7 separate regions of the Homo sapiens genome follow, and regions 1, 2, 3, 4, 6 and 7 are each linked to region 5. The links come from fine-mapping of genetic effects on plasma protein levels. A gene starts in region 5. Each other region holds a variant in brackets. All regions are shown on one strand. Distances are between the middles of the regions.

What was found. PIP is the posterior inclusion probability: the model's chance that the variant is causal. Protein levels are from antibody-based Olink assays in UK Biobank. Linkage for the fine-mapping came from a reference panel and not from the study's own genotypes, which makes the PIPs less certain.
Region 1: its variant is fine-mapped to the plasma level of the PLXDC1 protein (UK Biobank, PIP 0.92). The variant lies in the coding sequence of PLXDC1. If it changes the protein, the assay may bind it differently, which can mimic a change of level.
Region 2: its variant is fine-mapped to the plasma level of the PLXDC1 protein (UK Biobank, PIP above 0.99).
Region 3: its variant is fine-mapped to the plasma level of the PLXDC1 protein (UK Biobank, PIP above 0.99).
Region 4: its variant is fine-mapped to the plasma level of the PLXDC1 protein (UK Biobank, PIP above 0.99). The variant lies in the coding sequence of PLXDC1. If it changes the protein, the assay may bind it differently, which can mimic a change of level.
Region 6: its variant is fine-mapped to the plasma level of the PLXDC1 protein (UK Biobank, PIP above 0.99).
Region 7: its variant is fine-mapped to the plasma level of the PLXDC1 protein (UK Biobank, PIP 0.98).

The regions. Positions count from the first base shown.
Region 1 is chr17:39,138,008-39,142,083 of GRCh38, forward strand. It overlaps PLXDC1 (plexin domain containing 1), which reads right to left. Exons shown (of 14, transcript NM_020405.5): 2 at 1,647-1,825. Among named protein-coding and RNA genes, the nearest start is that of PLXDC1, 12 kb to the right of the region's middle. The variant G/T (reference allele first, on the strand shown) is at 1,675.
Region 2 is chr17:39,520,817-39,524,892 of GRCh38, forward strand. CDK12 (cyclin dependent kinase 12) reads left to right here. Exons shown (of 14, transcript NM_016507.4): 12 at 3,858-4,069. Among named protein-coding and RNA genes, the nearest start is that of CDK12, 61 kb to the left of the region's middle. The variant C/T (reference allele first, on the strand shown) is at 1,869.
Region 3 is chr17:38,499,182-38,503,257 of GRCh38, forward strand. It overlaps ARHGAP23 (Rho GTPase activating protein 23), which reads left to right. Exons shown (of 24, transcript NM_001199417.2): 23 at 1,416-1,447. Among named protein-coding and RNA genes, the nearest start is that of ARHGAP23, 73 kb to the left of the region's middle. RefSeq lists enhancers at 1-411, 412-936. The variant GGCCTCC/G (reference allele first, on the strand shown) is at 2,372.
Region 4 is chr17:39,066,027-39,070,102 of GRCh38, forward strand. PLXDC1 (plexin domain containing 1) reads right to left here. Exons shown (of 14, transcript NM_020405.5): 13 at 3,830-3,990; 14 at 1-1,933. The coding sequence ends at 1,814. It also overlaps the pseudogene RDM1P5. Among named protein-coding and RNA genes, the nearest start is that of LINC02079, 41 kb to the left of the region's middle. The variant C/T (reference allele first, on the strand shown) is at 1,932.
Region 5 is chr17:39,149,623-39,153,698 of GRCh38, forward strand. It overlaps PLXDC1 (plexin domain containing 1), which reads right to left and starts at 2,015. Exons shown (of 14, transcript NM_020405.5): 1 at 1,740-2,015. The coding sequence starts at 1,815. RefSeq lists enhancers at 3,519-3,668, 4,041-4,076.
Region 6 is chr17:39,680,332-39,684,404 of GRCh38, forward strand. The region is part of intron 3 of PGAP3 (post-GPI attachment to proteins phospholipase 3); the gene reads right to left. Among named protein-coding and RNA genes, the nearest start is that of PGAP3, 5.7 kb to the right of the region's middle. The variant C/CAAATA (reference allele first, on the strand shown) is at 2,744.
Region 7 is chr17:39,397,261-39,401,260 of GRCh38, forward strand. The region is part of intron 1 of FBXL20 (F-box and leucine rich repeat protein 20); the gene reads right to left. Among named protein-coding and RNA genes, the nearest start is that of FBXL20, 2.4 kb to the right of the region's middle. RefSeq lists silencers at 3,619-3,911, 3,976-4,000. The variant A/G (reference allele first, on the strand shown) is at 2,452.

The DNA of each region.
Region 1 (4,076 bases), 12 kb before region 5:
GCACAGCCTTGACCGCCCAGGCTCAAGCAATCCTCCAGCCTTAGCCTCCCAAGTAGCTGGGACTACAGGGGCAAACCACCACATCCAGATAATTTTTGTTTTAATTTTTTAGAGACGTGGGTCTCACTATGTTGCTTAGGCTATTCTGGAACTCCTGAGCTCAAGCGATCCACCCGTCTGGGCCTCCCAAAGTGCTAGGATTACAGGTGTGGGCCACCATGCCCAGCCCACACTGGAATTACATTTGAGGCTAGGGGACGTGTAGGAAAATGTAGCTACGGTAGGCACAGAAAACTAAGTAAGCAAGGGCAGGAGAGGGGGCCAGGATCCAGGAAGAGCCAAAATCATACAAGAAAAGAAACAATGTTATGACCCTGCCTGGATTAGAAGTGAACACTATGTACATGATCGTCACAATCCACAACCGAGCACACGGATTGAACAGGAAGATTGGGCGGCAGGGTGAAAGGTTGCTCAGCGGGAGTATACAAAAGCCAAATCTCCCTGAGCCGCAGCAGGCCATGAATAGGTACGGCCTAAAACCAGTGCACAGAGAGGTAGCAGTACAGTATAAGCAAATCCCTTGGAAATATGGAAGTAAACTCCAGAGGAAACAGCCCAGACAGAGCCTTCTGAGAAAGGGAAGGGGGCAGGCCCCAGGGGAGAGGAGGGGCAGGACTGCTGTTTTGTTTTATGATTTTAGCACTATTTAACCTTTTTTTTTTTTAACTGTCAGCACATACTAATTTAAGAAAATAGTTATTAAAATATAAAATAAATCTATACTGAGAAGAAGGTCCTCTTGTTGCTTCTTGCGTCCTAAGAATCCACCCTCATCACTCCCAGCCGCAGGCACCTACACACACAGCCACAGGCACACTCACACTTACACATGCTCATCACAGACACCCACAAACAGCCCACAGTGACAGACAGGTACACATACATAATATACAAAATCATCTGACACAGGTGCGAACCCAGCGTCCATGACACACACACCCATTCCCAGAAACGCACAATTATATTAATAGATTCACCCCCAGACACACCGAGGCTTCCAAGAGCCTCCCGGAAACCCTGAGAGAAGAGCACTCCCTCCAGGCCTCTCCTCCCTGTGCCAGCACCCCAGAACTGCCCCAGGCCAAGGAGGTTGTCTCCAGGAGCTGCACCCTAATTGCTTTCTCTACTCAGCCCCCTGCTGAGTGCCCAGCCCTTAGGCTAAGCAGCCATTAATCCTCTTGCGCCCCAGTCTGTAGATGGGGCAGAAATGGGGTGGGGAAGGGCCCCATCTGGCAGCTGAGATGTGACTCATAAGGCCACTGTCAGCTTTTTCTTCCCTAAGTCATGGGAGAGTCCAGTTTCAGGAATGCTGTGGTCAGGCTGTGCATCCTGATACAATCCATTTGATGTCTCTGGGTCCAGGAGGGAGTAGGCAGCCTATGAAACGCTGAGATGCTGTGATTTTATGACCCAGTCTGGGCCCTGCTTCCATCCCCTCCCCGGGGATTCTTCTCTCCACCCTGTCCTCCGGGGCCAACCCCAAATGATATGTGATTTGCATGTAGGACAAGCACACCTGGGGCAGCTGGTGAGACCTCCCCCACCCCCACTTCGCTCCCCCTCCATGTTCCTCCAGCACTCACCACCACCCTGGTCCTGTTATCTGGCAGC[G/T]TGTCCATGGCCAGGGTGCCCCCACCCAGGTCCTGGCTCAGCTGGGTCCTGTCCGGCTCTGACACATGCCCAGGGCTCTCTCGGGCTCTCCGGTTCCAGCCCCGCACGGTCCCTTTGGCAGCCCATCCAGAGCCTGGGCCCTCATCGTGACCTGGGAGAAGGGGACAGAAACCTGAGTGCCAGCAGTCCGGAATGAAGATCAGGAGGGGAATCCAGCCCAGTTATTCTGCAAGGGCCCCAACACCATGCCACTGTAGAATTTGCAGACACTTGACTGACTACCAGGACAGGAGACACCCAATGTGTACTGAGAGTCACGTGCCCAGCTCCAGGCCAAGCACTTCGCACATATCCTTTTAATCCTCATGCCAGCTCTCCGCAGTAGTTAGGATGTTCTCCATTTTGCAAACAAGAATCAGAGGCTCAGAGGTTAAAAGTCACGCAGTGGGTTAGGCATGCAGGTAAGTTTCAAACCCAAGCTGATCTGCCTCCAAAGGGTGATTATTCTCAACCTCAGCTATACACTGGAGTCACCTGGACAGCTTCAAAAGTTCCTGATGTCTGGGTCCCACCCTAGAGATCTCTTGTAACTGGTCTATGGTGTAGCCTGGGCATTCAATTTCTTTTTCTTTTTCTTTTTTTGAAATGGAGTCTCGCTCTGTCACCCAGGCTGGAGTGCAGTGGCCCGAGCTCCGCTCCCTGCAAGCTCCGCCTCCAGGGTTCACGCCATTCTCCTGCCTCAGCCTCCCGAGTAGCTGGGACTACAGGCGCCCGCTACCGCGCCCAGCTAATTTTTTGTATTTTTAATAGAGACGAGGTTTCACCGTGTTAGCCAGGATGGTCTCAATCTCCTGACCTCGTGATCCACCCGTCTCGGCCTCCCAAAGTGCTGGGATTACAGGCGTGAGCCACCGCGCCTAGCCTCGATTTCTTAAAAGAGCCTCAGGGGAGATTTTGAGGAGTCTTGGACTTAACTCTGCAGGCAAGGGTGAGAACCATTGCCGTTGAGCCTTCCAAACCAGTTTCTTATTTCTCTGGCAGAAATGGCACATAATCCTATTTCCCAGTGGGGTCAGGGGACTAGAAGCCAGAGTTCTTTTCGTTCAGGGCTTCTCAACCTCGGTACTATTGACATTTGGACTGGATAATTCCTTTTCCAATTTTTTTATTGTGGCAAAATACACATAACAAAATTTGCCATCTAACCATTTCCAAGTGTACAATTCAGTAACATTAAATACATTCCTAATGTTGTATGACCATCACCACCATCTATCTGCATAACTCTTTTCACCTTGTAAAACTAAAATTCTGTACCCGTTAAATAATAACTCCCTATTCACCCCTGTTATTTTATTTTATTTAAGAGATGGGGCCTTGCTCTGTCACCCAGGCTGGGGAGTAGTGGTGCGATCATAGCTCACTGCAGCCTCCAACTGCTGGGCTCATGCGATCCTCCCACCTCAGCTTCCTAAGTAGCTGGGACTATAGGCATGCGCCACCATGCCCAGCTAATCTTTTTACTTTTTATAGAGACAGGGTCTCACTATTTTGTTCAGGGTGGTTGGTCTTGAATTCCTGGTCTCAAGCAATTTTCCTGCCTTGGCTCCCAAGGTGCTGGGATTACAGATATGAGCCACAGCGCGCAGCCTGTATCTATGATTTTGACTACTCTAAGTATCTCATATAAATGGCATCATACTATATTTGTCTTTTTGTGATTGGCTTATTTCACTTAGCATAATAAATTCAAGGTTCATTCATGTCGTAGCATATGGCAGAATTGACTTCCTTTTGAAGGCTGAATAATATTCCATTGTGTGGATATACCACATTTTGCTAACCCACTCAACTATCAATGGATGTCTGTTTTGCTTCCACGTTTTAGCTATTGTGAACAATGCTGCTACAAACATGGGTGTACAAATATCTCTTTGAGACCTGGCCTTCAATTCTTTTGGGTATATACCCAGAAGCGGAATTGCTGGATTGTATGGTAATTCTATTTCTAATTTTTTGAGGAATTGTCATACTGTTTTCCATATAAAATGTTTTCCATGTAAAATGACTGGACCATTTTACATTCCCACCAACCGTGCACATGGGTTCCAATCTCTCCACATTCTTGCCAATACTTGTTATTTTCTGTTTTTTTTATAGTAGCCATCCTAACAGGTATGAGGTTATATCTCATCGTTTTTATAAATTGGCATTTCCCTGATGATTAGTGATGCCGAACATCTTTTCATATGCTTGTGGGCCATTTGTATATCTTCTTTGGAGAAATGTCTATTTAAGTCTTTTTCCTGTTTTTAAATTGGATTGTTGGTTGGACTGGATAATTCATTGTTATGCGGGAACTGTCCAGTGCTCTGTAAGATGTTTAGCAGCCGCAGCCTTGG
Region 2 (4,076 bases), 370 kb after region 5:
CACCCGGCTAATTTTTTTGTATTTTTGTTTCATTTTGTTTTGTTTTTTGAGATGGAGTTTCGCTCTTGTTCCCCAGGCTGGAGTACAATGGCGCAATCTCAGCTCGCCGCAACCTCTGCTTCCCAGGTTCAAGCGATTCACCTGCCTCAGCCTTCCCAAGCTGAAATTACAGGCACGTGCCACCATGCCCAGCTAATTTTGTGTTTTTAGTAGAGACAGAGTTTCTCCATGTTGGTCAGGTTGGTCTCGAACTCCCGACCTCAGGTGATCTGCCCACCTCGGCCTCCCAAAGTGCTGGGATTACAGGCATGAGCCACAGTGCCTGGCCATTTTTTTGTATTTTTAGTAGAGATGGGGTTTCACCATGTTGGCCAGGCTGGTCTTGAACTCCTGCCCATCTTGGCCTCTCAAAGTGCTGGGATCACAGGTGTGAGCCACCGTGCCTGGCCTGTTTGTTTGTTTGTGTGTTTTGAGACGGAGTTTCACTCTTCGCATCCAGGCTGGAGTGCAGTGGTGTGATATTGGCTCACTGCAATCTCCGCCTCCCAGTTTCAAGCAATTCTCCTGCCTCAGCCTCCCAAGTAGCTGGAATTACGCCACCATGCCCGGCTAATTTTTGTATTTTTAGTAGAGACAGGGTTTCATCACGTTGGCCGGGCTGATCTTGAACTCCTGGCCTCAGGTGATCCGCCCGCCTTGGCCTCCCAAGGTGCCGGGATTACAGATGTGAGCTACTGCTCCCAGCCTTTTTTGTTTTTTCCGAGACGGAGTCTCGCTCTGTCGCCCAGGCTGGAGTGCAGTGGCGTGATCTCGGCTCACTGCAACCTCCATCTCCTGGATTCAAGCAGTTCTCCTGTCCCAGCCTACTGAGTAGCTGGGATTATAGGCGCAGGCCACCACGCCCGACTAATTTTTTTGTATTTTTAGTAGAGACAGGGTTTCACCATGTTGGCCAAGGTGGTCTCAAACTCCTGACTTCAGGTGATCTGCCTGCCTCAGCCTCCCAAAGTGTTGGGATTACAGGCATGAGCCACCACTCCCAGCCTTTTTTTTTTTTTTTCCAATTGTAGAAATGGAGTCTCACAATGTTGTCCAGACTGTCTCAAACTCCTGGGCTCAAGTGATTCTCCCGCCTCAGCCTTCCAAAGTCATGGGATTACAGGCAGGAGACACATGCTTGGCCTCCCTCTGGTTTTTGCTCTTAACCATTCCTCCAGCTGTAATCATGCATGTCTCTGGTGACCATGTATATCTCACACTTGCAGAGATAGTCCCAGTTTTTTGGGGTTTTTTTTGTTATTATTTTTTTTGAGACAGAGTTTCACTCTTGTTGCCCAGGCTGGAGTGCAGTGGTGTGATCTCGACTCACCACAAGCGTTTCCTGCCTCAGCCTCCCGAGTAGCTGGGATTACAGGTATGCGCCCCCATGCCTGGCTAATTTTGTATTTTTAGTAGAAACAGAGTTTCACCATATTGGTGAGACTGGTCTTGAAGTCCCGACCTCAGGTAATCTGCCTGCCTCGGCCTCCGAAAGTGCTGGGATTACAGGCGTGAGCCACTGAACCCGGCCAACAGTCCCAGTTTTAAATGGTTTGCATCACTGCCAGTTTTTTTTGTTGTTTTTGTTTTTTTCTGAGACAGGGTCTCTCACTCTGTCACCCAGGCTGGAGTGCAGTGGCACAATCTCAACTCACTGCAACCTCCACCTCCCGGCTTCAAGCGATTCCCGTGCCTCAGCCTCCTGAGTAGCTGGATTACAGGAGCCCGGCACCACAGCTGGCTAATTTTTGTATTTTTAGTAGAGATGAGGTTTCACCATGTTGACCAGACTTGTCTCCAATTCCTGACCTCAGGTGATTCGCCTGCCT[C/T]GTCCTCCCAAAGTGCTGTGATTATAGGCGTGAGCTACCGCACCCAGCCAGATTACTGAATTTTGATGTAAGAAATAAGATCTTTCGGTCGAGCGCGGTCGCTCACACCTGTAATCCCAGCACTTTGGGAGGCCGAGGTGGATGGATCACCTGAGGTCAGGAGTTCAAGAGAGCCTGGCCAACATGGTAAAACCCCGTCTCTCCTAAAAATACAAAAAATTAACCAGGTGTGGTGGTGTATGCTTGTAGTCCTGGCTACTCAGGAGGCTGAGGGAGGAGAATCGCCTGAACTCGGGAGGTGGAGGTTGCAGTGAGCCGAGATTGTGCCAGTGCATTCCTGCCTAGACCATAGAGTGATACTCCATCTCAAAAAATTAAAGTAACATAAAAGAAATATGATCTTTTAATATGTCTCTATTTAATTAAAATCTTATGAATGCCTCTGTATTGTATTGGAGCTTCAGAGATTCATATCCCACATTATAGCACATAAAAAGTCTTTTATCTGGCCTGGCACGGTGGCTCATGCCTGTAATCCCAGCACTTTGGGAGGCTGAGGCAGGCAGATCACCTGAGGTCATGAGTTCGAGACCAGTTTGGCCAACATAGTGAAACCCCGTCTCTACTAAAAAATACAAAAATTAGCCAGGCGTAGTGGCGTGTACCTGTAGTCCCAGCTACTCAGGGAGACTAAGGCAGGAGAATCACTTGAACCTGGGAGGCGGAGGTTGCAGTGAACTGAGATTGCACCACTGCACTCTAGCCTGGGCAACAGAGCAAGACTCTGTCTCAAAAGAAAAAGAAAAAAAAAGTATTTTATCTTTGAATTTGTCAGTGACAGTATTATAGCTTTAATGTCAAATTTTGGAGGTCATTTTCTTAAGAAAGACTACATGTCTTAAAAATGGATAGGATGTTAGTTCATGAGTAGGTAGTAATTCTAAATCTGATTGCTCCAAAGAAATGTCCAAATTCATTTATTTTTTTGAGACAGACTCTTGTTCTGTTGCTCAGGCTGGAGTGCAGTGGTGTGATCTCGGCTCACTGCAGCCTCCACCTCCCAGGTTCAAGCAATCCTCCTGCTTCAGCCTCCTTAGTAGCTGGGATTACAGGCACACACCACCACACTTGGCTAATTTTTGTATTTTTAGCAGAGACCAGGTTTCACCATGTTGCCAGGCTAGTCTCGAACTCCTGACCTCATGATCCGCCTGCCTCTACCTCCCAAAGTGCTGGGATTACAGGCATGAGCTGCCGCGCCCAGCCAAATTCATTTATTACACTAGAATGTTGATACATTGAATATGACTTGAAACATATAAGGGTTTTACTGAAATTTGGGAACTCCTATTATAGAGAGATTTATAGTAAGATTTGACCTACTTGGTCTGATTGTATGAGAGATTCTGGACTAAGTTATACGTAGTGCTGAACTCCACAGATGAGCAAGTTGATATCCAGTCATAGAAATTCTGTGGGCAGAAAGGGGAAAGAACTAGTCTTTGGTCCTCACAAACCAAATTACACATAAGTTGATTTTGCACAGAGATGTTTTGATCATGATACATGGTTCCATGGTTTAAGTCACCGCCTTTCCTCGACCTTCTGTATACATTAACAAGCCAGCCATTACTGTCCTCGTCTTTATTCCCTACTGAAACTTGACCAATACTGTTCTCCTTTTTTGTTGTTATGCCAAGGAAAGACAGTATTTATATGGGAATTTATATAGCTGGTCTGTACCTAGTATTAGCAAGATCCTCCTTTCTCACTATGTAACTTTCGTACTTTTATTTCCTCAGACTACCATCTGCCATGATTTATTTTACACTGCTGTTACCTACTTTTACTAACTTTTTTGGTTATTTTTGTTTTCCTTATTCTTTACATTTCCCACAGTCTTTGCCTTCCCATTTTAATCCTTTGCTCCTCCATTCATTCACTGCTGCATTCCCTTACATATTTCCCCTTTGCTTTGTCTTTTTCCAGCCTCCCCCACTGGCAGGATTGCCATGAGTTGTGGAGTAAGAAACGGCGACGTCAGCGACAAAGTGGTGTTGTAGTCGAAGAGCCACCTCCATCCAAAACTTCTCGAAAAGAAACTACCTCAGGGACAAGTACTGAGCCTGTGAAGAACAGCAGCCCAGCACCACCTCAGCCTGCTCCTGGCAAGGTGGAGTCTGGGGCTGGGGATGCAATAGGTCAGTG
Region 3 (4,076 bases), 650 kb before region 5:
CCTGGACACCTGGGCATCGAATTGCTGCCCTCCTGCAGTGCCACAGACCCTGCGGCCTCTCTTTGCCGAGTCTCACCACTGCTAGTCATCCAGGCTGGGGACCGACACTCTCTGGAGACCAGCGATGCCACGCCCAGAAGCTTCTCTTTATCTCTAACTCCTGCCTCAGTCACCCCAATGGGCCGCCTCTTCCTGCTTAAGAAACCGGGGCCCTAAGTCCTGTTTGCAGGGCCTGTGGCCCTCTCATGGCAGAGGACAGATGATTTACATGCTCAGAGACAGATGAGGGCCACTCCCTTTGTGGCTGCAGCCACTGACTCCTCCCCCCGCCATGGTTGTCCCTCCCTTTAGTTTTAGCATTTCTGTTCGTCTCTGACAGAGGCACACAGGAGCTCCCTAGTCACCAGAGGCAGGCTCAGGAGGGGCCAGAAGACATGGGGGTGGGACGGCAGAGAGGGACCCCATGTCTCTTCTAATCACCCGCCGCCCCCCGCGCCCTGTGTGTCGTGTGTGGTCGCCCATCTTGCTTTTCTCACCTTGTGCAGGGGGAGGGGTCCGGAGAGGGGGGCGTCTAACTTGCCTGCCAGAGAGTGTGGATTAACCGCACCTGCCCACTACCCTGTGGGACCCCAGGAGGCCCTTGGACCAACCTGCTCCTTCTTTAGCCTTGGAGGGGACCCACCAGGACGTGTTTCTGGTTCCTTCTCCACCCCAGTGATATTAAGGGAGTGGGACCCAAGTCCCATAGAAATCATGCTTTTGGTCTCCTTCATAACTGGGTGATAACTGGGGACCCTGCCCATGAGGCAGGGTGACCCCAGGTCCGGAGGTGGAACCTATCAAGGCTCTAATCACCAGCCCACTCCACCTCCTGCGTCCCACCCACTTCATTTTTGCCCTTTTATCCATTATTCATGTGGTCCCTCTTCTCTGTTGTGTGCTCGGGGGTGGATGTAGGGCACCCACCTCTCTGTGCACTGTGTGGTCTCCATTTCTCCAGAGCATCTGTGATTTGCTGTGTTTCACTGTGGTGGTTTCCATGGACTGCACCTGATATTTGGCATTTTCTCTCCAGTGCTTCAGAGTAACAGGGACGGGCGGGGAAGGGGAGAGGAACCAGGCTCAAAGACAATGCCCCCTTGCCCTTAGCCATCGGTAAATGAGGGGCCAGTGGCTGGCAGCCTGATGTCACTTCCTGCCTCTAGAGGAAGTGGCAGTTAACATCATTTTCTCCTCCATCCCTCTCCCATAGATGGACATCAGATGTCCATCATACTCCTAGGGCCTGGGGAGATCTCATGTTTCAGAATTCCCTGGTTTCTGAAGCCTTTGAGGAGAGGGAATTGTGTGCATAAGACTCAGCTTTCTTTTTTCCTGATGCAACTTTCATTTTTTTTTCTGTCTTTCACCAACAGATTCTACCACCTGTAGTTCAGCCAAGTCCAAGGTACGTATGAAGGCAATTCTGAAGGCTTGATCCCTGTACAAGGCAGCCCACTTTGGTTTTTGTTCAAGGGAATTGAGGGAATGGCAGTTGGACCATGGGGAAAGTTGATGGTCCCTGGGAGGGAAGGCAGGAGGTACCGAGTGCCCAAGGTAAGCTGAGAAATTGCTTACCTTGGCAGTGTTTGGTGAGGCATCTGCTGTAGTAGAAGGACCTGGCCTGGGAGTTATGTGGCTAGGAGGCAATGTCACTCAGTAGTTAGAAGCACAGACTCTGCAGTCAGACAGTCCTGGGTTTGAGTTCTGGCTCCACCATTTAGTAGTTTGGGACATTGGGCAAGTTACTTAACCACTTTCTGATCCTTAGCTTCCTCATCTATAAAATGGGAATATCAGTAAATCTGTGGGGTGCTATAATAAATAAAACAGATATCCTTTAAGGTCTTTGGAGAGCCTAAAGCAAGCAGAAGGAAATAAAGAGAGGAGCAGAAATCCATGAAATAGAAAACAGTTGAAAAAAAGCAATGAAACCAAAAGCTGGTTCTTTGAAAAAAAATCAGTGAAATTGATAAACCTCTAGCCAGACTAACAGAATAAAAAGAAAGATGGCACAGATTATCAGTATCAGGGATGAAAGAGGGACATCACTACAGACCCCTAAGTTATTTTTTATTTTTTATTTATTTATTTTTTTTGAGACGGAGTCTTGCTCTGTCACCCAGGCTGGAGTGCAGTGGCACCATCTCGGCTCACTGCAAGCTCCGCCTCCCAGGTTCACACCATTCTCCTGCCTCAGCCTCCCGAGTAGCTGGGACTACAGGCGCCCACCATCACGTCCAGCTAATTTTTTGTATTTTTAGTGGAGACGGGGTTTCACCAGGTTAGCCAGGATGGTCTTGATCTCCTGACCGCGTGATCCGTCCCCCTT[GGCCTCC/G]GAAAGTGCTGGGATTACAGGCGTGAGTCACTGCGCCTGGCTATAGACCCCTAAGTAATTGAATTTATGGGCATAAAGTTGCCCATAAATTCAATAACTTAGGTGAAATAGACCAATTCTTTGAAAGATTCAGACTGCCAAAACTCACTTAAGAAAAAATAGATAACCTGAATAGTCCTATACCTCCTAAGGAAATTGAATATGTAATTTAAAATCCCCCAACAATGAAAACTTCAGGACCAGATGGTTTCACTGTTAAATTCTACCAAATATTTAAGGAATTTTTTAAATTTTTAAACAATTTACTTTAATAATTTTAAAATATTCTAAATAGAAAATAGTATAATTTTAAATATTGATATATTTAAATAGTTATTTAAATATTTGAATTATTTAAATGTTATTTAAATAGTTATTTAAGAAATAATACCAATTCTCCACTATCTCTTTTGGAAGATAAAAGAGGGTGGCTGGGCACCATGGCTCACGCCTGTAATCCTAGCACTTTGGGAGGCTGAGGTCGGATCTTGAGATCAAGAGTTAAAGACCAGCCTGGCCAACATGGTGAAACCCCATCTCTACTAAAAATACAAAAAAATTAGCTGGGTGTGGTGGCATGCGCCTGTAATCCCAGCTACTCAGGAGGCTGAGGCAGGATAATTGCTTGAACCTGGGAAGAGGAGGTTGCAGTGAGCCGAGGTCGTGCCACTGCACTCCAGTCTGGGCGACAGAGCGAGACTCCGTCTCAAAAAAAAGAAAGGAAAATAGAAGAGGAGGAAACACTTTCCAACTCATTTATGAGGCCAGCATTACCCTGATACCAAAACCTAACAATGCTTTTGAAAAAGATAGGGCTAATTCATTTGATAATACCACAAATACTTGTTGAACGTCTACTTTATATCAGTACTGTGCTGGGTACTGAAAATATAAATAATGAGCCAAACAGATAGGTTCCTGCCCTCACAAAGCTTATCTTCTAATGAGAGACAGACACTAAGCTTATGAAGAAATAGACTATCTGTCTGGCAGGTTTGGAGGCACAGTGGAGGCAGAAACCAGATGGAATGAGCTAATAAAGTGAGGGAGGGAAAAGCGCATACGTAGACCACTCTTGTGAGAAGTCCGATTGTGAAGAGATATTTACAGAACAAAAATGGAAAAATATGTGGCTTGAGGGAAACTTTCATTAAAAGATGAAAGCAGCCAGGCATGGTGGCTCACGCCTATAATCCCAACACATTTGGAGGCCGAGGCAGGAGGATCCCTTGAGCCCAGGAGTCCGAGACCAGCCTGGACAACATAGTGAGACCTCAACTCTACAAAAAATGCAAAAATTAACCAGGCATGGTGGGGCATGCCTGTAGTCCCAGCTACTTGGGAGGCTGAGGCAGGAAGATCATTTGAGCTTGGGAGGTTGAGGCTGCAGTGATGAGCCGTGATCATGCCACTGCACTCCAGCCTGGGCAACAGAGCAAGATCCTATCTCAAAAACAAACAAACAAACAAACAAAAAAAGACGAAAGCACATATTTACTTGCCAATGGGAATGATCCAGGTGAGAGACAGAGAGAGAGAGGAAGAGCTGGGCCCAGAGCCCGTGAAGCAGCAGTAGCCTGTGCTCCTAGCAGATGCATCCCCAGGTGTAGTAGGAAGAGAGGGAGGTGGCAGGGGCACACTGGCAGGCAGTGTTGGCAGC
Region 4 (4,076 bases), 84 kb before region 5:
TCAGGTGCTTTGCCTCTCAACAGAATCCACCTGCAGTTCCCTGCTAGGTATGTCTCAAGGAGCCCTCTAGCCACCCGACTTGTCTTTAATGCCTATAAAATCCAGTTCAGAGGAGGAAAAATATTTATCAGGCAAGTCCTGCCTTTGGAGGTATGTACAGGCACTGACATCAGAACAGGGCAGTGAGTAAACCCGGCACCGAACAGGCCATCAGAATAGGGAGCCCCACATGGTAAATGTGGCTGCGCATAGCAAGCTCACCCAGGGAAGGCTGGGCTGCAGGTTGGGGTAAAGCCCTTGATGCAGGCTGTAACATGTTTTGATGCAGAAGTTATTGGTTCTGAGTAGAAAGGGCAAGGTAAGAGAGCAAAGCCTAAAAATGCAGTTTCCCCCTTGAGTTCTTTTCTCTCCTCTTATTTGACTTCCCTCCCATGATAACATGCCCCAAGGGCTGAGAGCCACTATACTGTGTTTAACAGATGGAGAGAATACCTTCTTTAGGCTTTCAGAGCTACAGAAGCTGGGGCTAAAATGCCAACTCTATAGCCATGAGGATCTGCTTTCTTTTTTTTTTTTTGAGACGGAGTCTCGCTCTGTCACCCAGGCTGGAGTGCAGTGGCACTATCTGAGCTCACTGCAACCTCTGCCTCCCAGGTTCAAGTGATTCTCGTGTCTCAGCTTCCTGAGTAGCTGGGATACAGGCAAGCGTCACCACACCCAGCTAATTTTTTGTATTTTTAGTAGAGACATTTTAATTATGTTGGCCAGGCTGGTCTCAAACTTCTGACTTCAGGTGATCCGCCTGCCTCAGCCTCCCAAAGTGCTGGGATTACAGGCGTGAGCCACTGCACCTGGCCAAGGACCAGCTTGTGAGTCTAGGGAACCTGGAATGCAGCAGCCCCAATCTTGACTTTAGTTAACCTGTGTCATATGCAGGGGCTTTAAAGGTGGCCAGGAGCAGGGCATCTGGCTATCTGGCTATCTCCAGGTAGTGGGTCGGGGAGGCTCTGAGACTGCTACAGAGCAGACCATTGACAGCCTGTAACTGAGTCCAAATTCATTCTGCTTGCTGCGTCATAGCCAATACGTTGAGAGACAAGGAGTTGGAGCAAGGAAAGGGACTTTATTTCGGAGAGCCAGCAAACCAAGAAGATGGTGGACTAATGTCCTAAAGAACCGTCTTAAAATTATGCGGGCTTTGCCTTGTCTTTTATGTTTAGGTCGGGGGAAAGGAAGGGGCTGACAACCGCAGACATCTGGACACCAGCAAGGGTCCAGGGGAGGTTTGCAGAACTTCTTTGTCCTTGGCTAACAGTCTGTCATGTGACAATAGCCAAACCTCCTCATTCCTATAAATCTTTAACAAAAACAGTTAGCTGTTTACATGCTTCCCCTTTAATCCCAGAGTTAGTTTTGCAAACGGCATGATTCCTGTTTTTGCGTTTTATGTCAGTGCTCTAAAGTTATCCTAGCCTAGGTGCAGGAATAGGTAAAGGCCCCTTAAACAAAAATGGAGTTAGTTATGTTAGTTCTTCTGCTGTTTCATGGTTACAAGACACAGAAGAGAACCCTTGCATCAAAACAGGATGAGATTAGGTTGTTGTTCCTATAAAAAATCCATGTGGTTGTTTTTTGGCCCCCTCTTCAATATTCGGGGTGTGCTGACGAAGCGAGCAGCAGCTCTGGAGCCATAAACCACCATCTCATCTCAGCCCAGGGCATGCTGGGAGAGGCCAGGAAAAGTCACTTCTCTTCTTTGCTTTAACTGTCTTTTCTGTGGCCTCAAAGTCTTCAAAGGGGAGACTTGGTGTTCTCAGCACTGCTCAGCCTCCATGAAGCCCTCCTTCTCATGGCCCGAGGGCTCCACCTCCGCATAGGTGGAATGGTCAGGGTGGCTGCGAAACTTCATGGCTGGCCAGTGGTGAGGTCTA[C/T]GCTGCAGAAGGCACAGAGGCAAAGTCAGTGGGCATGCCCCCGCCCCCATGGGGACCCCACACTCCTGAGCGACAGAGCCAACCAAGACTGTCTCTTATAAGGGCCCTGGGGCACTTGGGCCTACCAGGAGCCACACAACTGACCTTCAGGGACCCTCTCCCTAAAATGTTCCGTGCTGTGATCCCCCAACCACTGGGAAACCTGCCGAAAGCTAGAGTGTGGAAGGAGGACACTTTATCCTTCACTGTGTGGTCTGCAGAACTCACAGCTGAAAGGTTCAGCAATACACCAAGTGGAGACCTAGGACTGCAATGTGAGGGAGTGGCTCAGAGATGGCTGGCATGATGCTTGAGGCTCTGAAAATGCCAAGATAACCCTCCAAGGTAGCACAGGATCCACATCAGAGTCAACAGGGGGCTTATTAAAATGCAGATTCTGGCCTGTGCAGTGGCTTATGCCTGTAATCCCAGCACTTTGGGAGGCCAAGATGGGCAGATCACTTGAGGCCAGGAGTTCAAGACCAGCCTGGCCAACATGGTGAAACACTGTCTCCACTAAAAATACAAAAATTAGCTGAGTGTGGTGGCACGTGCCTGTAGTCGCAACTACTCAGAAGGTTGAGGCACCAGAATTGCTTGAACCCAGGAGGCGGAGGCTGCAGTAAGCCAAGATTGTGCCACTGTACTCCAGCCTAGGCGACAGAGTGAGACTGTCTCGAAATAAATAAAATGCAGATTCCTGGGCCTGCCTTAGACCTGCCCTATCAGAATCCCTGTGGCCCAGGGATCTGCAGTTCCCAGGTGTTACCCAGGTAGGCTAAGACTTCAGAATGACTAAGCCTCCTAAGAAACTGGGGGAATGACCTAGGCCTGTGGGTTAATGAGGCTGGTGGGCTTGTGACCCACGTGGAAGAAACTAGGGTCACAGAGGCACCACTGCTGCACTCTGTGGGGAACTCGTAAGAAGCCAGAAGTGGAGGACTGGGGGCAGGAGCTGCTGAGCTCTGCAGCCCCGAGTGAAGGGGGCTGAGCCTCACATCCCATGCTGCCCCTCAGGCTGGCTCTTCAGAATTGAGACATTCAAAACTTAGTATCCTCAATTAAAGCTCCCAGAGGGCAGCTCTTATCATTATTTGGCTTGTCTATTTTATTTTTATTTCTATTTTAGAGATGGGGTCTCCTCTATTGCCCAGGTTGGAGTGCAGTGGTATGGTCAGGGCTCACTGCAGCCTCAAACCACTGGGCTCAAGGGATCCTCCCACCTCAGCTTCCCAAGCGGCTGGGACCACAGGTACGTGCCACCACGCTGGGCTAATTTTTTAAATTTTTGTAGAGACGGGGTCTCACTCTGTTGCCCAGGCTAGTCTCAAACTCCTGTGCTCAAGTAATCTTGCCTTGGTTTCTCAAAGTGCTAGGATCTTAGGAAGGAGCCACTGCACCTGCCCCTCAATTTTAGCCTTAAAAGCAGGTATCAGTAGGCAAAAGAGGCAGAGACCCTGGTTCCCTCATGGCTTTGAGTAAGTACTGAGCCTGGCATTTGGGCATGAGAGACCATAAATCACTGGAGATAGGCTGCACAGCCACTAGATGAGCACTATGTGGCACTGTGGCCTTCTTTCTTTCCTCTGGGGATTTTTTCTGATTTCACAAATGGGGGAACAAAAGCAGAGGGGCTGTTCCACAGGACAGGAGGGCCGAGGGAGTTCTGAGGTGCTGATTTATCAGGGTGCAGGACTTAACGGGCGCCAGCCATCTCGAAATGTGCCAGGATGGGGTGGATGAAGTTTTCTCAGGTATGTGGCAGGGGAGAGGGAGAAGGGGAGAGGCAGGGACCGAATGGCCCAGGAGACGCCGACGCAGAAGCAGACAGGAGCCCTGTGGCCACAGATGACACGGACCTCGATGAAGAAGAGCGCAGCATTGGATGTGGGGTGGCCATTGATGTAAATTCCAGCCAGGATGATGGCCGCCACGAGGAGGACTGCCAGCACGATGCCCACGATGGTGCCCAGGTGCACAGGAGTGCCCTTTGTCTTGGGGGACAGGTTGTTCTGAAGGCCTGTGGAGAGATCATTAGGGCAGACAGGGGCTGCAGGGGAGCAGGGAAGGTCGAACCATGGGGTCTTGGGTTCTAACAAAGTCTCA
Region 5 (4,076 bases):
GATTCAAGTCTCTGCCTGCCCCACTCTTCCTGGTCTCCTCAACCGTCTACTACCCCAACCCTACTCTGAAGGGGCCGCCCTCAGCCAGGCCCGGGTCTGGCCACTATCTCCCAGCCCATCCTTGTTACCTCCCAATTCCCCCTTCCCCAGCCCTCTCCGTGGTTCACACAATCCAGCCAAAGGTTCAGATCCTCCCCTCATAAACTCTGTTACACCCAGAGTTCAGAAGATCACACCAGGTTGAGGATTCAAAGGAGCCCAGAAATTATTCATAACATATCCAACTCTCTCCTGTTTACCTTGATTTTTTTAAAGTATCAGTTACCCATAAAGACCCTAACAAATATGAAAAGGAAAGGCAATTATAAAAGATCCTTCATTATTCCACGCACAAGAGTCAAAGATTTTGCCAACAGCCTCACTTTATAAATGCAAAAATAGGTCCAGAGAGAGAAAGTAACTTGTCTAAAGTCACACAGCAAGTGAGATGGCGGGACTAGAAGCCACGTCTCTGGCCACCCTCTGTGTGGTCTCCCTGAAAATTGGTGGTTCTCACCAGCAGCTTCTCGGTTCGTCAGCTCCACTGCCCTCTGCCCATACTTCCCACTGTCAGCCTCCTTCCCCTCCCACCCCCAACATACTCTTCTTCTCAATAGGGACCCAGGTCTGTCTCAGCTACATGCTGGGACCATTAAAGTCAAGAACATTGCCACTGACACTGTGCCTGGTGCCAGCACACTCCTGAGACACAGCAGGTCAACCACAGCACTCACCTCAACAGCGCCTCCCTCACCCCACCTGAGGGGCACCCATGCCAATGATGCACAGGTATCTATCTTCTTAATCATCTCTGCTGAGGGGCCAGGCTGCAAATTACCCATCTCCCCAACCCCAGAGAAAGTCTAGGTGCTTAGGGGAGAACAGAGACTATGAAAATTATACCATGAGGGATTCCAGGTAGATCTCAGAAAGGACTTCCAGGTGGGAGAGATGAGTTTGGAGAACTGGTAGGGGGGAAGAGGAGTGTGCAGAATGGGACGCCTCCCTCCACCCCCTACCCCAGTGCCCCATCTAGAGCCAGAGTAGCTGAAAGCCAAAGGCTGCCAGGGCAAATGGGAGCAGGTGTGAGGAGGGGGACTCTTGAGGCTGGGGGTGCAGAAGCAGCAAGTTGCTTCTTCCTGGGCCCACTGCCTCTCTACTGACACCAAATAGGCAAGGGAAGGTGACCGAATGGCTGCTGCCTTCCCAGGCAGAGACGCTGTGTCCCCACCATCCCCCTGGCTGCTCCCACCTATCCCTAGCCTGGATCAGCTTTGGGGTCGGGGGTGTGGCAGAGAAGAGGAAAAGAAGGCATGGCTGGGGCAGGGGCCTCCCCAGGCTCCCATCTCATCAGAATTCAGCCTTGCCTGGGGTGATCAGGGGTCCTGATGACTCTCCCGCTGTCCCCTTTCAGAGCCCATGGCCACATAGAGCCCCCTCTCCTAAGGTCCCTCCAGTATCCTTCCAGGAGAGAAGGAGAGGTCCGGGCATCGGTGTCTCCACCGTCACTCACACACCCTATGTGTTTGGGAAAGTGGGGTCCCTATCCACCTGCCCACAGCCCACAGCTCTCCTGGCCTCCTGCGGACAATGCCCCCCTCGCGGACATCGCCAGGCCGTCCACACCTGCCCATGCCCACACCTGACTGCCCGTCCCTCCCCGCCCCCGGCCCACCCGGGCCGGCTCCCGCCAGTCCTACCTGCTCCGGGCTGGGGGCTCAGCGCCCGGGCAGCCTCCCTGAGCACCAGCACCAGGAGCCAGAGCTCGCCTCGCATGGTGGGTGCCCGGACCTGCCCCCGGCCTGCTTGCTGCCCCGGTCCTGACGAGGGAGGGGGCCCTGGCTCAGGCTGCGGCCGCGCGGTCCCCGGGGCTGGCGGAGGGGCGGGCGGCGAGGAGACGGCGGAGCGCGGGGCCGGGCGAGCCGGCAGGAGCGGCGAGAGCGCGAGCGGAGCTGGAGGCTGCGGCCTCCGGGAGCAGGCGGGGAGCTGGGGGGGCCGCTGGGTCGGTGGGGGTGGGGGGGAGCTGGGGCAGGGGGCGGGGCGGGGGGCGCGGCGTCGTTGGGGGCTCTCCCGGCGCCTGCCCTCAGCCCTAACGGAGCGCTCCCCTAGAGCTCTGCAGCCGCTCCCAAGGCAAGGGGTGCAGAGTAGGGGACAGGGCGGGAGCCCCTCGGGCTGAGAGAACCCCTAGAAGCATCAGCCGCCCCGCGCTCCTCACTGAGCTCCTGGCTCCCTTTCCCTCCTCCGTTCCGCCGGGAAAGCTGCAGAGAGAAGGCCCGAGGACTGGACCCCTGGAAGGGACAGGCGCCCCATCCCTGGGTCACGGGCCCCTGACTGTTCCCCGCCCCCAGCTCCTCCAAGCTCTGCGACTTCCTGAGCTGTTCTTCGGAATTCTGTGCGTCTCTGATGCTTTGTCCTCCAGCCCCCACCCCCAGAAATCTCCCCCTGCAGCAAAGACCCCCAGCTTTTCTCCCCAAGAGGGGCCTGAATCCCACCCCCCTTCCATGACTCCACCTTATCCCTCCACCCCCCATTTCCAGCACCGATTTGCCCCCCAAGCCTAGCAGACGTGAGGGTGGAGGGGGCCTGGCTACCCCTTACTCTGCAACAGTCTGGACCCCTCCCCACGAGTAGGTAACCCAGGCCTCCTGCCTCTCTGGGGCCTCCAGGCCTACTCAGGGCCAGACCCAATCAATCTTCAGAGCCAGCCCCAGACGAGGAAATGGCTCACCCCACCTGTCACCACCTTCTGACAGGCTCTGGGGATAGATAATCTTTTTATTTTTTCTTCCAGGACAGAATAAAAATACCCGCAATGTAGGATATTTAATAGACGGCAAGGAATCAGGTCAGGACACGAAGATGCCTCTTCCCTCCCCTGACCTACTTCGTTCTTGTGACGGCAAGGAGCTGGGGCGCTGGAGAGTGGGAGACGGGGTGAGGGGGCATCCTGGCTTCTAGTGGGCTGGGGCCTAGGGACTAGAAAACCGCGGAGAGGAAGGGTGCGAACGCTGAGCGCCATTGGAGAAATTTTCCAGGAGGAGGGATATGGGCGGGGACAGGAGAAGGTACACTGTGGGCTGGAAGAGACGGATTCCGTGGCACTGAGGTTAAAAAAAAAAAAAAGAAAAGAAAAGAAAAAAAAACACCTAAGAAAGGAAACAACTAAAGGCTCTCTAATCTCTTAGAACGCCGGTTCCTCCTTCCGCCGGGCCCAGAGTCCCAGAGACTACCTCCTCCAGCCCTAAACCCAATGTCCCCTTACCGTGGAACAAGGCAAGGCCGGTCTGTAAATTCTTCTTGATGTCTAATTTAAATCCCAACTTGGCGGACTCTCAAACAGAATCAGATAGGCAGCTACCTCCAGCTGCAGCTACTTGCTGCCCTCAAGTGGCCACGTGACGAGCCACAACCCTCTTGTCCTGCGGGTTTCCTCTTTCCCCAGCCTGCCCACCCCCTGTCTCCGACCTCCTGCCTTCCTCGAGGTCAAGGTGAGAAGTCTCGGGACGGATTCCAGCTCCAGCCCCGGCGTCTTTGCACATTCCTCCATCTGGGGTACCTCGTGGTCTGTCTTACAAGAAGAGCTCAGGCTGAAACATAAACTTGTAAATAGTAGAAGCAAATGTGTAAATTTTAACGTAAGCCTCTAGAACTTGAGATCGTAATCACCTGCAGGGTGTGTGTGTGTGTGTGTGTGTGTGTGTGTGTGTGTGTGTGTGTGTATTTTGTTTGTTTTTTGAGACAGGTTCTCGCACGTTGCCTAGGCTGGAGTGCAGTGCTGCGATCATAGCTCACTGCAGCTTCCAACTCCTGGACTCAAGCGATGGGGAGCGTATATGAAAACACAGATTTCTGGACTCCACCCTCAAGTTTCTAATTCATTAGGTCTGGGATGAGGCCCGAGCGTACCCAGGTAATGCTGCTGGTCCCAGGACCACATTTTGAGAGCCACTGCTGTTGAATCCCCAGTTCCTTTCAGTCCCTCACTGCTCCTCGTCTGCCAGTAGGAGTAAAAGCAAACAGCTTAGGAAAAATCGACA
Region 6 (4,073 bases), 530 kb after region 5:
GAAATAAGGAAATGTATGTAAAGTGCTTCAGACAAGCCTGTCACATGGCTCCTGTTCCTTAATTTATCACAACTGTTATTAATAGTTGTTGAATAGGAAGTATTAAGGAGGGTCCATATTTCCCAGAGGTTTAACAGCCTCCTTCCCTGACCTCCTTCCCACGCCCACCTCCCAAGTCTAAGGCTCGGCCTGGACTTCGCAGCACGCCCCATCTATCAGCTTTTCTAAGGCCCTAGAGACCTCTGTGTCTCCAGATTCCGGGGTCTCCTTCAGTTCTCACGTGTACAATTCAGGACAGCAGAAGCCTCTCTCCTTCCTGTGCTCATCCCGGGAAGCACAATCCAAGCACACTATCTCCCAGTTCTCCACCTGCCCCTCCGGCTACTCCTTCTGTCTCTGTGTCTGGCTCATCTTCCTTTAGCCAGCCATTACATTTTGGGGTTCCCCAGGGCTTTGCCCTAGATCCCTTCTCTTTTCACTAGGCTCTCCTGGGGTGATCTCATCCACACCCACAGCTTCTATCACTGTCTTTTTTTTTTTTAAAGACAGGTCACCCTTTGTCACCCGGGCTAGAGCAACAAGAGTACAGTGACAGGATCACAGCTCACTGCAGCCTCGACCTCCTGGGCTCAAGTGATCCTCCCACCTCAGCCTCCTACTAGCTGGGACTACGGGCATGTGCCACCAGGCCTGGCTTATTTTTTTTGTATTTTTGGTAGAGACGGGGTTTCACCATGTTGCCCAGGGTGGTCTGGAACTTGTGAGCTCAAGCAATCCGCCCACTTCAGCCTTCCAAAGTGCTGGAACCGCAGGTGTGAGCCACTGCGCCCGGCCTCCATCACTGTCTTATAAGCAGAAACACAAGGGGTCATCCCTTACTGCTCTTTCCTCATCTAATCCACTCTTGAAGTTTATCAGCATAGCCAAGATGTTGAAAGTGTGGACTCTGGAGCCAGATGCCTGAATTCAAACCCTGGCTCGGTGATCTGTGGCTGGACTTAACCTTTTCAGTCCTTGGTTTCCTCATCTATAAACTGGGGATGAGAATAATAATACCTATAAGCTGCGTTAAACAAAAATTACGGGAGGCCATTGTTCTGGATTGAGCCCCCGCACTAGACCCAAGAGACCAGACAAAAATGAAGTCACTCATGCTAAATGCCACATAATCAAACTGAAACTTTTTTTTTTTCTGAGACGGAGTTTCACTGTTGTTGCCCAGGCGGGAGTGCAATGGCGTGATCTCAGCTCACCGCAACCTCCGCCTTCCGGGTTCAAGTGATTTTCCTGCCTCAGCCTCCCAAGTATCTGGTACTAAAGGCATGCAACACTATGCCCAGCTAATTTTGTATTTTTAGTAGAGACAGGGTTTCTTCATGTTGGTCAGGCTGGTCTTGAACTCCTGACCTCAGGTGATCCACCCGCCTTGGCCTCCCAAAGTGCTGGGATTACACGCCTGAGCCACCGCACTTGATCTTCAAACTGAAACTTTAAGGTAACTGATAGGTCCCAAAACAGACCACTTTTTCCTGAAAACAGGAGAGTCCAGTCTACCCAAGTAAGGAAGTCTCCTCTGCTTTAACCCTTATAAAAAAAAACCTGATGTGGGCCGGGCGCAGTGGCTCATGCCTGTAATCTCAGCACTTTGGGAGGCCGAGGCAGGCGGATCACGAGATCAGGAGATCGAGACTATCCTGGCTAACATGGTGAAACCCCATCTCTACTAAAAATACACACACAAAAAATTAGCCAGGTGTGGTGGTGGGCGCCTGTAGTCCCAGCTACTTGGGAGGCTGAGGCAGGAGAATGGCGTGAACCCGGAAGGCAGAGCTTGCAGTGGGCCAAGATGGCGCCACTGCACTCCAGCCTGGGTGACAGAGTGAGACTCTGTCTCAAAAAAAAAAAAAAAAAAAAAAAAAAAAAAAAAAAATCTGATGTTAACCAATCAGGTTTCTTTCTATTGTTCTGTTTCCTGGTTCCCACCTTACAAAACCCACTGTTCTGCTATTGCCCAATGGAAACTTGCATTCTATTTTGTAGAACGGAGGCTGCACCAATTCATGAATCACAAATTAAAGCCAATTGGCTCTATAAGTAAGTTTGCTGTAATTTGTCTTTTGCCACTTGTTATGGATGAACAAGCTTAATACTTATAAAATGCTTAGAGTGATGCCTGGCATACAGTATGAGCTATGTATGTATTTGTTAAGGAAATAAATTTTTAAAAAGCTTTAATGTTACCTCCAAAACACAGCTCAAGTGTACTTCTCTTCAATGCCCAAGACCCATGCCACCTCTCTAGTCTAGCTACTGGGCCCTGTGCTAAAACTACCAACTGGTCTACTGCATCCACTCCCGCCCCCTTCAATCTGTTCTCTACACAGTAGCCAGAATGAGCTTTCCAAAGGGCAAATCTATTCATGAAACAACTTTTCTCCTCAACCCTCATTTAAAATCCCTCCGTAGGCCGAGCACGGTGGCTGATGCCTGTAATCCCAGCACTTTGGGAGGGTGAGGTGGGCGGATCACGAGGTCAGGAGTTCAAGACCAGCCTGGCCAACATAGTGAAACCCCATCTCTACTAAAAATACAAAAATTAGCCAGGCATGGTGGCACATGCCTGTAGTCCCAGCTGCTCAGGAGGCTGAGGCAGGAGAATCGCTTGAACTGGGAGGCAGAGGTTGCAGCGAGCCAAGATAGCGCCACTGCACTCCAGCTGGGGCAACAGAGTGAGACTTTGTCT[C/CAAATA]AAATAAAATAAAATAAAATAAAATAAAATCCCTCCGTACTTCCTGATGCTTTGAGAGTCAAGATCTCCAATGTGAGGCTCTCCATGGCTGGCCCCATCCACCACCCATCAGTCCGCCCAGCTCACACCCACTCTCTGATTTCCTGCATGTCAGGCTGCCTGGAATGACCCTCCCTCTCTCCCACCTGGGCACTTTCTGAGACTTCTCTTTAGAAGCCTTCCCTTACTCTTCTCAAATTTACCTAGTTAACATTCATGCATCCTTCCCACCTTACCTTTAATGCCCCTTCCCCAGGGAAGCCTTCCCTGATGGCCCCATGCTGGTCTTGGTCTGCCTTTACACACACCCCTGAAGCACCTCTCCCCGACTGCACTTTTTCATAGTTGTACTCTTACATTCAATTGTATGATTAGCACCAGAGGGCAGACTTCTGGATCTCCAGCAAAGTGCCTGGCATATAGTAGGTGCTCAACACCTGAGTGAATGGCTTCTGTGAGAGCAGGAAGGTGAGTGAATGGAAATTTTTTCCTTAAGGCTTACAGGGGCAGCTCCGACCTAGAGACATCCGTTGCAACCTTTCATTCTCACACCCTTCCCAAGGCCGTCACGGTCCATATCTGCACCCCAGTCTGTGCTTATCACACAATACCAGGCCCTGAATACAGCTCTTTAGACCAGCCGTACTGTGAAGCTGACAGCCCTTTCTGCACCTGCAGATGTAACCATACCTGGGCTTCTCCAGGGATGGTCTAAGCCTAGGCTGAGCTCGCCAGGTGCAGTGACTCACAACTGTAATCCCTGCACTTTGGGAGGCCGAGGTGGGTGGATCACCTGAGGTTGGGAGTTCGAGACCAGCCTGACCAACATGGAGAAACCCCGTCTCTACTAAAAATACAAAATTAGCCAGGTGTGGTGGCACGCGCCTATCATCCCAGCTACTTGGGAGGCTGAGGCAGGAGAATTGCTTGAACCCAGGAGGTGGAGGTTGCAGTGAGCCAAGATTGCGCCATTTGCACTCCAGCCTGGGTGACACAGTGAGACTCTGTCTCAAAAAAAAAAAAAAAAAAAAAAAAAAAAAGACTAGGCTGAGCTCTACACAGAGACTATGGCTGTGACTCCCCACCAGGCCTGGGCTGGAATTGAGATTGCTCCAAGTCCTCCAGAAGGGCCCTTGGAAAGACCTGTGGTCCCAGCATCCTCTTTAGCCCCCCATCTCCCCTCTGTGTTTGTAAACTGTCCTACTGGGTCTTTTAGTGGCTTCCTTCTTCAGGACAAGAAAAATGCCCTTCTTTCCTCTCTCCTTCCCAAACAGCCTGACCTAGGGCTCTG
Region 7 (4,000 bases), 250 kb after region 5:
TAGGGTTACAGGTTGCACATAATATTACAGATTTATACGAAAGGCAGTGACGTATAATGAAAAACAATAATGAACATGGATTCAAAATACCGAAATTGGAGCATATCACTTTCTAACTTATGGGTTCTTATCTCCAGGCACTGTTTAAACTGTAAAATGGTATCTGAATGTCAGTTAATGTTACCACTATGATTGTTTTTTAATGTTAGGCTTTTTAATAAACCCATTAAGACAGAATTTTTCTCCAACAGTACTACATCCTCATAAAGAAGCTACTAAGAGCATGACAAAGTGGAGAGGCTTAACTGAAGCAAATCTAAGCTTAGATTCAAGGGCTAGTCTAGATATTTAAACATTAATCTCACTAAGTGTTAAGATAATGTCAGTTATGGCACTTAAAATGAAGGCAGTCAGGTGTGGTAATCACACCTGTAATTCTAACACTTTGGGAGGCCGGCGAAAGGATTGCTCAAGCCCAGCAGTAGCAAATACAAAATAAAATAAAATGGATGAACTTTGGAAAAGCTCTTTTCCACAAATTTTATAGACTTTTTGCTAGTCATGCTAAAAAAAAAAGCAGGATGACAGTGGAGTCAAAAAAAAAAAATGCAGATTGGAATCCTGGTTCCCCCACTTACTAGGTGTGCAATTTGAACACCTTACTTAACCTCTCAGGCCTTCACTTTCCTCAAGTGTAAAACAGAATCGTAAAACTAGAGGTAACTAGCCGGGTGCGGTGGCTCACGCCTGTAATCCCAGCACTTTGGGAGGCCGGCGGGCGGGGGGGGGGGGGGGGTTGGATCACGAGGTCAGGAGCTCGAGACCAGCCTGGCCAACATGGTGAAACCCCGTCTCTACTAAAAATACAAAAATTAGCCGGGCATGGTGGCAGGCGCCTGTAATCCCAGCTACTCGGGAGGCTGAGGCAGTAGAATCGCTTAAAACCTGGGAAGTGGTTGCAGTGAGCCGAGATCGCACCATTGCACTCCAGCCTGGGGACAAGGGCAAGATTTCATCTCAAAGAAAAAAAGCAACAAAACAACAACAACAACAAAAAGCTAGAGGTAACTGAGGTAAAACATCTGGCTCAGTGTCTGTCATGCAGGAAGTATTCAATAACCATCGTTAAATTTGAAAGACAATTACTAAAATTTGCTGCAAAGTTTACCATAAATAACATAATTAAAATATCTGAATGGTAAGTTTTAATTGATTAACACAATTCAGCACATACTATGTTGACCTACAAGGGTTATTACTGTATACATTTAATGCCATGGTGACACAGCAAGAAAAACATGAATTTTCACATCTCTTGATCTCTTAAATAGAGATTCTTTATTCAGTAGTCATCTACTTTGGCTATTCCACAGGATGCTACACATCTGGCTAACAGGTACTCACCCTCGTTGTTTTTTGTTTTTTTTTTGGAGACGGAATCTCTCGCTCTGTCGCCCAGGCTGGAGTAAAATGGCACAATCTCGGCTCAATACAACCTCCGCCTCCTGGGTTCAAGTGATTCTCCTGCCTCAGCCTCCTGAGTAGCTGGAATTACAGGTGCCCACTACCACGCCCGGCTAATTTTTGTATTTTTAGTAGAGACCGGGTTTCACCAGGTTGGTCAGGCTGGTCTTGAACTCCTGACCTCGTGATCCACCCACCTCGGCCTCCCAAAGTGCTGGGATTACAGGCATGAGCCACCTCGCCCGGCCCCTTGGTTTTAAATTAAAAAAATTTTTTTTCTATAGCTCTAACCCAGAGTGGGAGATTTAAGGTGTGTGGCCTCCAGTTACAACATATAAAAGCATACCTACAAAAGGATTTCAATGAATCAACTATCTGAAAATCATAGAGCTTCAGTTATCTTCTCCAAGAAAAATAAACCTTACGTAGCCACAATTTGAAATTAGCTATTATGTGATATAAAGATTTCATGCATCCACAAAAATTCTCAATGAGATCTGCTATCTGCTTACAGTTGTAAAATTATCAGTTCTTTAAGAAGCAGACTGTAATCTTGAGGATTTAAAATATCATTTGATGTAAATGTTTAGATCTGCTTTATTTACGTATCTTTTATTGAAAGTAAATATTTAAAATATTTTCAACAAATAAGCAATAAATTTATTTACTACTTCCTAAGAAGCCAATTACTAATTGTCTCAGTCCTTGTAAATTAGGTCAATAAAGAGGTAAATGGTTTTAAGAAGTACTCAATGAACTTCATTAACACATATCATTTCTAGCCATTCTCATCTGTATTCCGGCATGGAACACTTCACATCATATTAAGTGAATAGCTTTTAGTTTATAAACAAACACTTATTTAATCATGAAACCGTCCAAGAAGGACTCCCCACCTTATTCTTTTTTTTACCTTCTCAGATCATATTTAGAAAGATTTCGTTGCCAGCTACATCAGCTACAAGTTAAAAAGAAACCTCTTAATAC[A/G]GCAACAAATTTCCTTATTACTTTATTATAGTATGCCACCCCTACAGAGATTGTAAATTAAAGTATAAGATAATTATAAAAATACAAAATAGCAATGTAATTTTACACCACATACAAGAGAATACTTTCCAAAAATTATTCAATCTAAAATGAACAGCAAACTGATAAAGAGCTAATTCCACAGGCAAAAGACTGTCCCCGACTCAAATCTTCAGTATCTGGAACTGCCTTTCAAGATTCCTGTTAACTGCTGAACGTCTATTCAGCAATTTTAGTGACATTCTGGGTTTTTACGGTACTACTGAATACGAAACCATCATAAATTAACTTTATTGGGGCTCTGTACATTAGGGCCATCCAATGTCCTATTAAACACCAAATAATATATTCCATAACATTTTCTTCTAGTGATCAAGTTAAATACTAAAACTCTAAGAAGGCCAATTCTTTGATTTTCTCCACTCCTGAAGTGCAACAGTAACACTGAAGCTCTGAACTTAAACTGCACCCAAAACACTTCCTATCTTGATCTTCGTGGATCAATTCAAATTATTTCCCAGTTCGCATAATAAGAAATCAAAGAATAGATTAAACTGACAACCCTTAAAAGTTTTCACACCCTGAACCTAGTTGTCGAGTTTCTTAAACTTTTGTCTCGCCGTCTTACAATTTCATCTCTCAAATGGAGATGAAGAAAAACACCGAGTGAGATTGTCCACTGAGCTGTGAGTGATCCCAGGTCAGCCTGGTTCTCTGCCAGAAAAGACCAGGTGACATTTACTCTTCCTGTAGAAGTTTCTTTCTCTTGACCCTCAAGGAACCTTCCAGTATATTGTTATACTACTGTAATTCATCAGTAGTTACAATATTTCACTTCCCAAAGGAATCTCTTCCTTGCAAGATGACTACTCTCTAAAGACGCTTTCAAGACCGTCCACTCCTCAATTCCAGGACAGTAAACCTCCCTCGCTAGAGGAGAAAAAGTTCCTGAAAGACAGACCGGAATGGATTTGCTGAACTTTCGTCCCAATCTCAAAGCATGTAGACATCCAAGGGTTCCCAAGGAACAATGAGCTACAGAAGTACAGACTAAACGGGAAAGCAGAGGAAGTATCAGAACAATACCCAAACCAAACACAGCACCGAAAACCCGTGGTAGCCTCTATCATCCCAAACTACCGTCCCCACTTCCCTAGTTTCACCAAGGTCTCAAACTCGGAGAAATGGTACCCATCCCCTAATTTCCTCCCTCAACAGACAACAAACGCGTCATGAAGGTAGCAGCGAGAAAAGCAGCAGGCTCTGGTGGACCGGAGCCGTGATGGCTGGGTGGAAGGAGGCAAGCCAAGGGTTGTGTAAAGAATGGAAAGCTGAGCGATCCTGGAGGAGGGTGGAATTAGGGCGCCCGAGCTAATCCCCCGCGGGGGCCCGCTGGTGGGAAGAGACGGGGGGCGAACCGGCGAGGGGACTGGGGGCACCGGGCTGCGCTGGGCTTCTGGGTCGCAAGAAAGGGGAGCGGAGTCTGGCAGCCCCGCCAGTGGGTGGGTGA